3 linked regions of the Homo sapiens genome follow. The protein of the gene in region 2 purifies or fractionates together with the protein of the main gene of each other region. This does not show direct contact. Each region holds a gene or a part of one and is shown on either strand. Other genes may lie near its edges. The genes, in order: CLPX, DNAJA3 and CAPRIN1.

What was found.
Region 1: the proteins of DNAJA3 (region 2) and CLPX purify together in Homo sapiens (affinity purification with mass spectrometry, with the first as the bait; one large-scale study listed by BioGRID). This does not show direct contact.
Region 3: the proteins of DNAJA3 (region 2) and CAPRIN1 purify together in Homo sapiens (affinity purification with mass spectrometry, with the first as the bait; one large-scale study listed by BioGRID). This does not show direct contact.

What each region holds. Positions count from the first base shown.
Region 1 is NC_000015.10:65,147,567-65,151,030, forward strand, and holds the end of CLPX (ATP-dependent clpX-like chaperone, mitochondrial precursor), read right to left. Parts: intron 3,348-3,464; coding exon 3,257-3,347; 3' UTR 653-3,256; downstream 1-652. UniProt on the Homo sapiens protein: ATP-dependent chaperone that functions as an unfoldase.
Region 2 is NC_000016.10:4,453,354-4,457,005, reverse strand, and holds the end of DNAJA3 (dnaJ homolog subfamily A member 3, mitochondrial), read right to left. Parts: intron 2,196-3,652; coding exon 2,092-2,195; 3' UTR 2,079-2,091; exon of another isoform or gene 2,078-2,078; intron 1,461-2,077; coding exon of another isoform or gene 1,438-1,460; 3' UTR 231-1,437; downstream 1-230. UniProt on the Homo sapiens protein: Modulates apoptotic signal transduction or effector structures within the mitochondrial matrix. Affect cytochrome C release from the mitochondria and caspase 3 activation, but not caspase 8 activation.
Region 3 is NC_000011.10:34,089,623-34,093,274, forward strand, and holds part of CAPRIN1 (caprin-1), read left to right. Parts: intron 1-556; coding exon 557-667; intron 668-906; coding exon 907-1,056; intron 1,057-2,283; coding exon 2,284-2,434; intron 2,435-3,652. UniProt on the Homo sapiens protein: mRNA-binding protein that acts as a regulator of mRNAs transport, translation and/or stability, and which is involved in neurogenesis, synaptic plasticity in neurons and cell proliferation and migration in multiple cell types.

The sequences.
Region 1 (3,464 bases), on a different chromosome or scaffold from region 2:
TCAGTTGTAACTAGAGAGAAAGGTTGAGTGATGGAGTAGATAGATTTATAGATGGTGGGATGATGAATTCCATCAATGGTTTTTCAATGAAATGTGAAGCAAGATCCTTAGCTAGATGGAGAGGAGAATATTAAATGGTCATTTCAGAGTATTAACAAGAAGTTACAGTTGTTGCTTATTTCTTACCTCCTACAGCTTCCTAGTTGTTGTTTTACACTTCTGAGATTTTGATTTAGTTCTCATTATTCTTTTCTGGCAAATTTCTACTTGTTCTTCCAGACTTATCTAGGCCATCACTTTCTATGTCACCACACCTGGTACCTATCTCACTTCCACTATTAAAATACACTTTAGTTTGTATTTGTTTCCCCTACAAGACTAGTAAGATTCCTGAAAAACTTGGCCTGTGTCCCTAGTGTCAAGCGGGACATTTAAGTAAGGATTTTTGATAAATGTTTAACAGACATTGTCTGTGGAATCTACAGCTAGAATTTATCTGATATGGAAGTGCCAAGGATTAATCAATCCCTAGAATGAAGCAGCTCATATGACATCTGTGCCCTTTTAAAAATGGCACTGTTTGGCTGTGCTTGTTGTTGTCAATGCAGAGTGCTCCTGCACCATTGCTGTATGGACACACCACCACGTTGGCTTTCATTTAGTCTTTTTGTTTTATTCAAATGTCAAAATGTAAGTTCCAAGATACAAATTATGTTTGATTTAAAAACATCGACTATGCTTTGTTAACAACTTCCAAAGCCAAATGTAAGTTGTTGTGACTAAAATGCCTCCCCAGTACATTTCTGGAGGATTAACCTTAATATGTTTAGCAGCTAGTCTGATTTCCACTCTACAAAAAGGAAAATGATGCTATAAGGGAAAGATAATGAACAAAGTTATAATATGTAAGACTTCCTGGGAAGAACTTGAACCATTACTAGGGAGACCAAGGAGAGGTGTTTCTGTTCCATACTATAGCAACCAGCCTTAACACTCTGTAATACAAAGTGCATTTCTGGTCCTACCCAGCCATAAATACCATACATCCCTTTTATTAATTATATCAAAGAAAGCCCAACTCTTCATCAACAAGATTTAGAATTTCCTAATAGCTTTAGTTTTTCCCTAAAAAAAACTGTGTAAAAGGAAAGCTCGAGTCTATAAACCAAAAAAAAAAACCCACAAATATTTACATGTACTCTGATTTAAACAATTTCAAATGAGATTAAACTGAATGAATATAGAACTTGTACCACCATTATAGAAGGAAAGAAAAAAAGCTTAAAAGGTACCCAAATATTTTAATATTTATGGAATTAAATGATACAATTTTCATTAAGACCCCAAATATCCCACCACTTTTTAGCTTTGCTGTATAATGAAGGTTAGTAACTTATATGTTAGTGTGAACACATTTACTTTGGCTGATAGCAAAACATAGATTTTTTAAAATGTTCTAAGAAGCCAAAGAATTAGACCAAAATGTTCAGCACCAAAAAACAAAACAAAAAAACTAGCTCAATACTTCAGGTTAAATACACAATATCAAGAAATTTTATTTAGGTCAGCACATGGCTGTTACTATGACTGATACTGCATGCTATTTCTAGAATTAGATATGTATCTTTCTGGCTGGATGCGGTGGCTCATGCCCGTAATTCTAGCACTTTCAGAGGCCAAGGTGGCCGATTGCCTGAGCTCAGGAGAGACCAGCCTGGGCAACATGGCGAAACCCCGTCTCTACTAAAAATACAAAAAATTAGCCAGGTGTGGTGGTGCACGCCTGTAGTCCCAGCTACTCAGGAGGCTGAGGCATGAGTATCGCTTGAACCTGGGACTCAGAGGTTGCAGTGAGCCAAGATTGTGGCACTGTACTCCAGCCTGGGTGACACAGCGAGACTCTGTCTCAAAAAAATAAAATAAAATAGATATATAACTTTCTGAAGATTTAAGCCAGACTTCAATTCCATGTACTCACCCATAGTACTAAAATGGATTAAAGATGGTAAATAAGGCCGGGTGTGGTGGCTTACGCCTGCAATCCCAGCACTTTGGGAGGCTGAGGCCAGCAGATCACAAGGTCAGGAGTTACAGACTAGCCTGGCCAACAGGGTGAAACCCTGTCTCTACTAAAAATACAAAAATTAGCCAGGTGTGGTGGTGCGTGCCTATAATCCCAGCTACTTGGAAGGCTGAGGCAGGAAAATTGCTTGAACCTGGGAGGCGGAGGTTGCAGTGAGCCAAGATCGCACCACTGCACTTCAGCTTGGGACAGCGTGAGACTCCGCTCAATTAAAAAAAAAAAAAAAAAAAAGATGGTAAATAAATCAGACAACTTGGTAAGAAAATGGCCTTTTTTACAGAACCAATTGGGAAGTTAGTGTCATGCATTAGCAGATAAGACTAGGAATACAGCTAAACCAATTATCAAAATATAGTTCTTCAGGGTATTTTTCAATGAAATGTTTAACTACTTGAAAACTACCTGGTCCAATTTTTTGTTTTCGCCCTGAGACGGAGTCTCACTTTGTCGCCCAGGCTGGAGTGCAGTGGCACAACCTCAGCTCACTGTAAACTCTGCCCTCCGAGTTCAAGCGATTCTCCTGCCTCAGCCTCCCGAGTAGCTGGGATTACAGGCACCTGCCACGGCACCCAGCTAATTTTTCATATTTTTAGTAGAGATGGGGTTTCACCATCTTGGCCAGGCTGGTCTTGAACTCCTGACCTCGTGATCCACCCGCCTTGGCCTCCCAAAGTGCTGGGATTACAGGCGTGAGCCACCACGCCCGGCCTACCTGGTCCAATTTTTAAGATGAATAAAATTCCAATATTTTCAGAAACACATGTGGGTAAAAAAGGTAACACTAAAGAATGGTATCTCAATATTCAATTTTAAAGAATTTATTTTCCCATTTGTAGAGTAACATTATTGTAAAATCTACAGTTATCGCAATACCTGCATTGCTTAAAAGAATTCCTAAGAATTTTGTTAAAGCATATTTTTTTTAAAAAACTGAACCAAAATAATGTACATTTTATCTCTAAACATTGTGTCATTAAAGTCCATATAACATCTTCCGTAAAATCAATGTGATGTTACAATTATATACATGATCTGATTCTTCTCCTAAAGGCTTCTCTGACCATGTATGATATCCAAGATAGATCCAATGCCTTTAATATCAGACTGTAGAGACAATTATGATCCTAAACAAAAGAAGGAAAAGCTGTATATACAAGACAGCAATATGACAGTTTAGCTGTTTGCAGCATCTGCTTGGCGGGGCCATCCTTCTTCTTCAACTCCAGAGTCATACTCCTCTTCAGAGGATTCTTTTGTTGGAGCCCTACAATGAAAAGCCATGTTTGTTTTTTTAAAATAAAAAATGGAGGTAAACATGATCTTTAAAATCAAAACAGCAAAGTAACCTCTCCTAGCTAAGAAAGCCACGATAATAGAAAAT
Region 2 (3,652 bases):
AAGTCACATCCAGATTCTAGAACATTCACTCACAGGGGACTGTTGTGTCATGGCAAGCACCCTGCTCTGGAATCCAAGTGAGGGTCAGCACTGTCGGCACCCCAGACCCATCTGCCTCTATGTGCTCTGGGTGGCTGTGAGCACAGGATGAGGCCAGCCAAGTCTCCTGTAACCCCCATAAGCCACCTGCAGAGGCTGTCTGAATTCTTTCAAAGAAGAAATGACCACAATTTAGGTTTGAAATATCTTTTTGCAATAGATAATCTTATTTACATTAATACAGAATCATTTTACATTCCTAAATCAGACACTAATAGATGCTTTATTTTAGTGAATTATAAAGGAAAACAAAAAGGAAACTGTTGAGAAGTGTTCTTCATTAACCTGTCTAACGACAGCCCGAAGATCCTGAAACACATGGAAACTGCGACATGCTACCAGCAGAGGCTGGGGAATGGGGGTTCTGCTCTCACTGAATGGTGGGGAACCTTCAACTGCTTAGCCTGTGCTTTCCTTTTCTGAATCAACATTTACAAAGGAAAAAACAATGATTAGCACTGAATAATTTAAACACACTTCAGAAAATAGATGTCAACAGTGTAAGTGGGAGAACCAAGCCCCTGACTAGCAACAGTGGCAGGGCTTCAGTTCCCAAGGCAGCTGAAGTCTGGCCAGCACAGTGCTGCAATGGGCTGTGGCTCAGCAGAAGGGCAGGAGCCCTCCATGCCTGGCTTACAACAACAGGACTCAATAGTCAGGGACAGGCGGCCATCCCGGATGGGGTGGGAGCAAGGACTGTACATCCTGACAAGGATCACCACCCACACGGTCAGAGCAGAACCCCCAGGGACTCTCTGGGCCTCTACGTGCCTCCCAGGCACCGACTGTGCAGCTGCTTGGTACCCCGGGAATAAAAACTAACTGAGCAGAGCAGCTGATGCCTCGGCAGGGCCCCTCATTAGGGGAGGACGGTGCTGGTGGGGCCTGGGGGCCCCACGCTCCCAGTGAAGACAACCTGTCAGGAAGAACTCATTCTGGAACCTCCCGGAGGTTTGCTGAGAAGGAAATTAATCACTTCGTAACTTGATGCAGCTTAAGGCTTCATTTCTAAGCTGTAAGCATGGCCTTTAACTAAGATATCCACAATATTCAATTCCAAATTAGAGTTTTAGCCCTGCAAGAGTCTAACCATCTCCCTCTGCCTGAGCCAGGGGCCGTCACCTACCAATGGACAGGAAACTGCCACCAGCCTCTGGGGCTGCATCCTACTGCCCGGGCTGTCCACTGTGACCTTTCCGTGGAGAGAGGTGTTGTCCCATGATTTTGCTGTTGCCAAGGCCGTCCAGAGGCTCTGCGGGTGGGAGCTCAGTGCTGCTGTTCTGGAATCCTCCCGTCTCCCAGGTGCCCTGGCCCTTGGAGGGGCTGCTGCTTCCCGGCCTAGTTTCCAGTGGATCTTTTTCCTGAGCCAAAGAGATAGGCTGTTACCTTATACTCAACATTTCAAGGGAACACACCCCTGTGGGGAGCGTCTGTTAATCCCTGGAAAGCAGCTGTGCCAAGAGAGGGGCGAGAACCCCACTTGCTGAGATGAGCATAATAAACCAAAGTGGGTCCCAAGATGACACGGCGAGCAAGCGCTACCCCTGGAGCAGCCCCCAGGCTTGCACAGCCCTGCGCTGTCCACGCAGGAGGGCAGCTTCCAAGCAGGCAGGACGTGAGGAGATCTGAGTTCTAGGCCTGGCTCTGCCTGACTCGCCCTCTGTGACCATGGGCAAGCCGGACCCACCACTGCAGGGGGGCTGTACAACAGCCCCAGCATCGCCACCTCCCCAGGAAGAAGACACAGCCAGAGGCTGGCCGCGGCAGCCCAGCCAGTCCTGCACTACAGGCTGATTGCCACGTCATCTATTCCCTAGGCTGAGAGGCCAGCTCCTAGTGGAGCTAGGTTTACCACACCTTGGACTGGCACCTGTTCCAACTCCTGGGGGTGGGGGCACAATATTGGTTAAAGTGGGAGAAAACCAGGATTAGTTCACAGAGGAAAACAAAGGGAAAAAAAACCTCCAGGGTTTTCCTACCTCGGCTGGGATATCATGAGGTAAACATTTTCTTAAGTTTGGAAAGGAATCCCTCCTCGTCCTCCCCAGCCTCACGCCTAGCCTTGCTTCCTGCGGAGCTATCCATGGTGCTGCCACCTGGGCACAAACAGCAGAAAGAACTGGCGTCATGGGCCTGCACTTCCACAGTCACATCCCAGGGCCCACCTACCCCCGCCTGGCCACCCAGGGGCCCACGTTCAAGAAGCGGCCAAGTGCCACCTCAAGAAGAGTGGGGGCCACTCCTAAGATGGCACAGGATGCCTCACCTTGCAGACGACTGAGGTGAACAGGCCACTCAGAGCCTGAGGGTCTCCCAACTGCTCTTTCAATCAAGGACCCACAGCAGGGAAACAAGAAATAGAGACGGACTATGACAGCTGTCTCTATCTGAGCAACAGTGACAAAAACACAGTCAAGTGCCAGGCACCTCCCAGGCCAGGCCATACACTTCCTTACAGGCAAATTTCACAGATGAAAAAACAAAAAAAGGAGGCACAGAGAGGTTACAGGGTTTACCCAAGGCCACAGAGCCAACAAGCGGGAGGGAGGACTGAGTGCGAGCCCATGCAGTCTGACTCCAAAGCTGAGACTCAACCACCATGCTGTTGGCTATAAGAAGGTAAATAATGACTGCCAAGAAAAACCCTACTCTAGACCAACTGGCCAGATTCCATGCTGCTGTGTGCGCAAAGACCCTGCAGAACAGCCCATGTGGGAGTCACGGCCACGCACAATCCTTTGTCACAGGCACTCCATCTCATCCCTCACATCAGCAGTCTATCTCCCTGAGCAAGTTGTCCCCATTTGGGGCACCTAACCTAAATGCTCTCAACCTAGGGAAGCTGTGCTGCAATTTCTTTAGGGCCCAGGCTGACACCATCTAGAGGTACTTTCTCACACAAACGTGTTACAGATTTGCCAACTACTAGACAAGGAGTGCACACTTTTGTTGTGAGTTAGAATATAGACCTGAACTTGGCATGTTAATTGTAGAGCTCATTTTTAATGTGCTCAGAGACCTAGGCCACGCACAGTGCATAAAAGAGTAAAGGCCTCAGTCTAAGTAAGAAGGTGCCTTCGCTAGTGAAAGGTCCAAAGTTTGGGGCCACAGGTCCCCGGGAAGGGGTGAGGGAGGCTACATAAAACAGAGTGAGACCCAGTCTCAAAAAAGAAAAGGCCGGGCACAGTGGCTCACGCCTGTAATCCCCGCACTTTGGGAGGCCAAGGCAGGCGGATTGCCTGAGCTCAGGAGTTCGAGACCGGCCTCGAACATGGTGAAACCCATCTCTACTAAAATACAAAAAATTAGCCAGGGGCGGCATGCACCTGTAGTCCCAGCTACTCGGGAGGCTGAGGCAGAATTGGTTGAACCCAAGAGGCAGAGTGCGTTGCAGTGAGCCGAGATCACGCCACTGCACTCCGGCCCGGGTGACAGAGTGAGACTCCGTCTCCAAAAAAAGAAAAAAAAAAAAAGAACAACAAGGAGCCATACTGTGTCTCTCACTCAAAAAGTCACATAGTAATTGCAAGCCCCCCCAGTTCCCTCTCTGTTC
Region 3 (3,652 bases), on a different chromosome or scaffold from region 2:
AATATTTTTTCACTTTTGTTTTAATTGGTTCCTTGGTTTCTTTCTTAGCTTATGAAAGAAAATAAGAATTTCATCAGTGTCCAAGTCTTCTGTTGGAATTCAGCAAATTTATTGTTGTGGATAGCTGTCAGCCTTTATTTTTATGTTTAGGTTCATTTTTCCTCTTGATGACTTTTTAAGTTTTTCTTAAGTCTTGCATTTTAAATAATGTATTATAATATAATAAGCCTTTTTTATTTAGAACTGAGAATTTCAGAAGACATAGTTTAGACATAATTCTAAAATTTAGTGCAGATTTCTCCATCTTAGAAGTACTTGTGGAGGGCTTTTATAACGAGACTTGGGTTTATTTAACGTCGAGCTTCAAAAATATATATATTTTTGCAATTTTTAGGTTTTATATTATACAAATTTAAAGAGAGATGGTAATATTAATTTCTCCCTTCTTTAGCAGTTGTATCTATTTCTTAGCCTTATGCGTCTTAGAGGTAACTTGTTTTTTTAACAGTCAATTTTGTAAGCAGGAAGAAGCTTTTATTTCTTTACTTATGTCTAGGTTCCTTTGGTATCATCCACAAGTGAGGGGTACACAGCATCTCAACCCTTGTACCAGCCTTCTCATGCTACAGAGCAACGACCACAGAAGGAACCAATTGATCAGATTCAGGCAAGTTCTGTTACCGGGTCACATACATTTGATGAGGCACTTACTCATGAATTGAACAGATGTACATTACCATTAATATAATGATTCTTCTTTTTGGACCTACTTTGCTTTCATGAAATATTTGAGTTTGTTAATACATATAAGTTTGAGATTAATTTACCACTTTAGTACATCTGTTCACTTTTTGTTTGGCTAAGTTTAGTTTACCGCTAAAGTGCATCTATTCACTTTGTGTTTAGGCAACAATCTCTTTAAATACAGACCAGACTACAGCATCATCATCCCTTCCTGCTGCGTCTCAGCCTCAAGTATTTCAGGCTGGGACAAGCAAACCTTTACATAGCAGTGGAATCAATGTAAATGCAGCTCCATTCCAATCCATGCAAACGGTAAGCAAATTAACTAACATTAATTGCCTAGTATGTAATATGAATCATGGTAGATTTTCTTTTCTTTTTTAAAGGTCTTCATTTAACTGTGCTTGAGTCTGCATCTTTCATTAACTGTAGGGTATATTTAATTGAACATAAACTGATTATTCCAGAGATTAACTGATACTAACGGATATTCTAGAGATAAATTTTAGCCTTATGAGTGATGTGCCTGTATCATCTTAATTTGTAGTTTTACCCTTTTGATTTGATTAACAAAAGCTTAAACATTCAGAGAAATAGACTAATATAACATCCATATAATCATTACCTAGATTTAATAGTTGCCCTGTTTGCTTAATCTTTTATTTTACTGAAGTATTTTGAAGTTTCAGATGTTATGCTTTACCTTGATTCTTGAGCAAGCACCTTTAGAGAATTTCTAGAAAATAATAATAATACTATAATCTGTGGGGTGCAGCTAAATCGGTGCTGAGAGGAAAGTTCATAAGATTAAATATTAAAATAACTTTTGATTAATATGTTAATAAAAATGAAAAAACATTCAACCCTGTTAAAGTTCATAGAACAAACTTCTGTAAGTGGTACTGCATCCAGGAGTTTGTCTTATTTATTTATTTTTTGAGACAAAGTCTTGCTCCGTCGCCCAGGCTGGAGTGTAGTGGCGTGATCTCAGCTCACTGCAATATCCGCCTCCTGGGTTCAAGCGATTCTCATGCCTCAGCCTTTGGAGTAGCTGACACTCCAGGCATAAGCCACCATGCCCAGCTAATTTTTGTATTTTTAGTAGAGACGGGGTTTCACCATGTTGGCCAGGCTGGTCTTGAACTTTTGGCTTCAGATGATCTGCCTGCCTCAGCCTCCCAAAGTGCTGGGATTACAGGTGTGAGCCACTGTGCCAGGCCAGAGTTTGTCTTTTAAAAAGATTTCTCATATATGTAAAAGCATTTCCAAGGCTGCTGATTGCATGTCTTTTTATTTTTTTTAATTCCCTACTTCCATTTCACAGCATATTATACTCCCCTTTAAGTACTATATGGTATATATGTCTTTTTCCACATTGAATCACTTGGAGGGATTTTTGTATGTGTGTGTGATGTTTTTGTGTTTGAGACCTCTGTGATGTCTTTATTTATGTCTGAGGTAAAACCACCATTGAGTTTGGCCATGTTATAAACCAGAGAATAAAAGGATGAACTAATCATTTACTTTATTTACTAACAGGTGTTCAATATGAATGCCCCAGTTCCTCCTGTTAATGAACCAGAAACTTTAAAACAGCAAAATCAGTACCAGGCCAGTTATAACCAGAGCTTTTCTAGTCAGCCTCACCAAGTAGAACAAACAGAGCTTCAGCAAGAACAGCTTCAAACAGGTACGAAATCCAGTGTCACCTCATTGGCTCCTTGCTTTCCAGCACAGTTATTGACAGTGTTAGGACAGTTTAGACTTCAGAGTGGTGGTGTCCAAGAGTTTCTGTTTTAGTAGCAGACCATATGAATTTTTCATTTCAGATCATGAGTTAAATTGAGTCTGTACTTGTATATGTGAATTATGTGCAATTTTTGGAGGCTTTATAGCCATTTTCCTTTTGTCACTGAACTTACATAATATCCCTGTTGCATTGTATAATTTATATGGAATTAAATTTGTTACTTGAATTACCATAAAGTGTACTTTTTTTTTTTTTTTTGAGATGGGGTCTCACTCTGTCACCCAGGCTGGAGCGCAGTGCCGTGATCTCGGCTTACTGCAACCTCTGCCTCCTGGACACAAGCAATCCTCCCTACCTCAGCCTCCCAAGTAGCTTGGGAATACACGCATGTGCCACCACGTCCAGCTAATTTTTTGTATTTTTGGTAAAGTTGGGGTTTCACCATGTTGCCCAGGCTTGTCTTGAACTTCTGAGCTCACGTGATCTGCCCACCTCAGCCTCCCAAAGTGCTGGAATTAAAGGCGTGAGCCATTGCACCTGGTGATAAACTATACTTTTAATTGTTAATTGATTGAAGGCTTTTAGCATGATATCTGGCATTGAGTCAGTTAGACAAAGTTAAGAAAAAACTCATGGTGGCTGCATTTCGTGGACTGGGTTGAAACATAATCTATTTTGTCAAGTAAGGTCATAATTTGGCTAGTTACCATACCTGTCACGATAGTAATGTAGGTAGGGACGCTTTTATGTATTTGAGACAGGTTCTCACTTTGTTGCCCGGGCTGGAGTGCAGTGATGCCAGCATAACTCACTGCAGCCTCAAACTCCTGGGCTCAATGATCCTCCTCCCTCAGCCTCCTGAGTAGTTGGTAGTTGGGACTACAGGTGCTTACCGCCATGGCTGGCTAATTTTTTTTTTTTTTTTGTAGAGATAGGGTCTCCAGGAGCTCACTATGATGCCAGGCTGATCTCCAACTCCTTGCCTTGAGCGAACTTATTGTCTCTGTCTCCCAGAGTGGTGGGATTATGGGCATGAACTACCTTGTCTAGCTCGATAGAGATACTTTAGATTTTTTTTTATATATATATTTTTTTAAGAAATGGGGTCTCTGTCTGTTGCCCAGGTTGGAGTGCAGTGGTGTAATCAGATACTGGAGC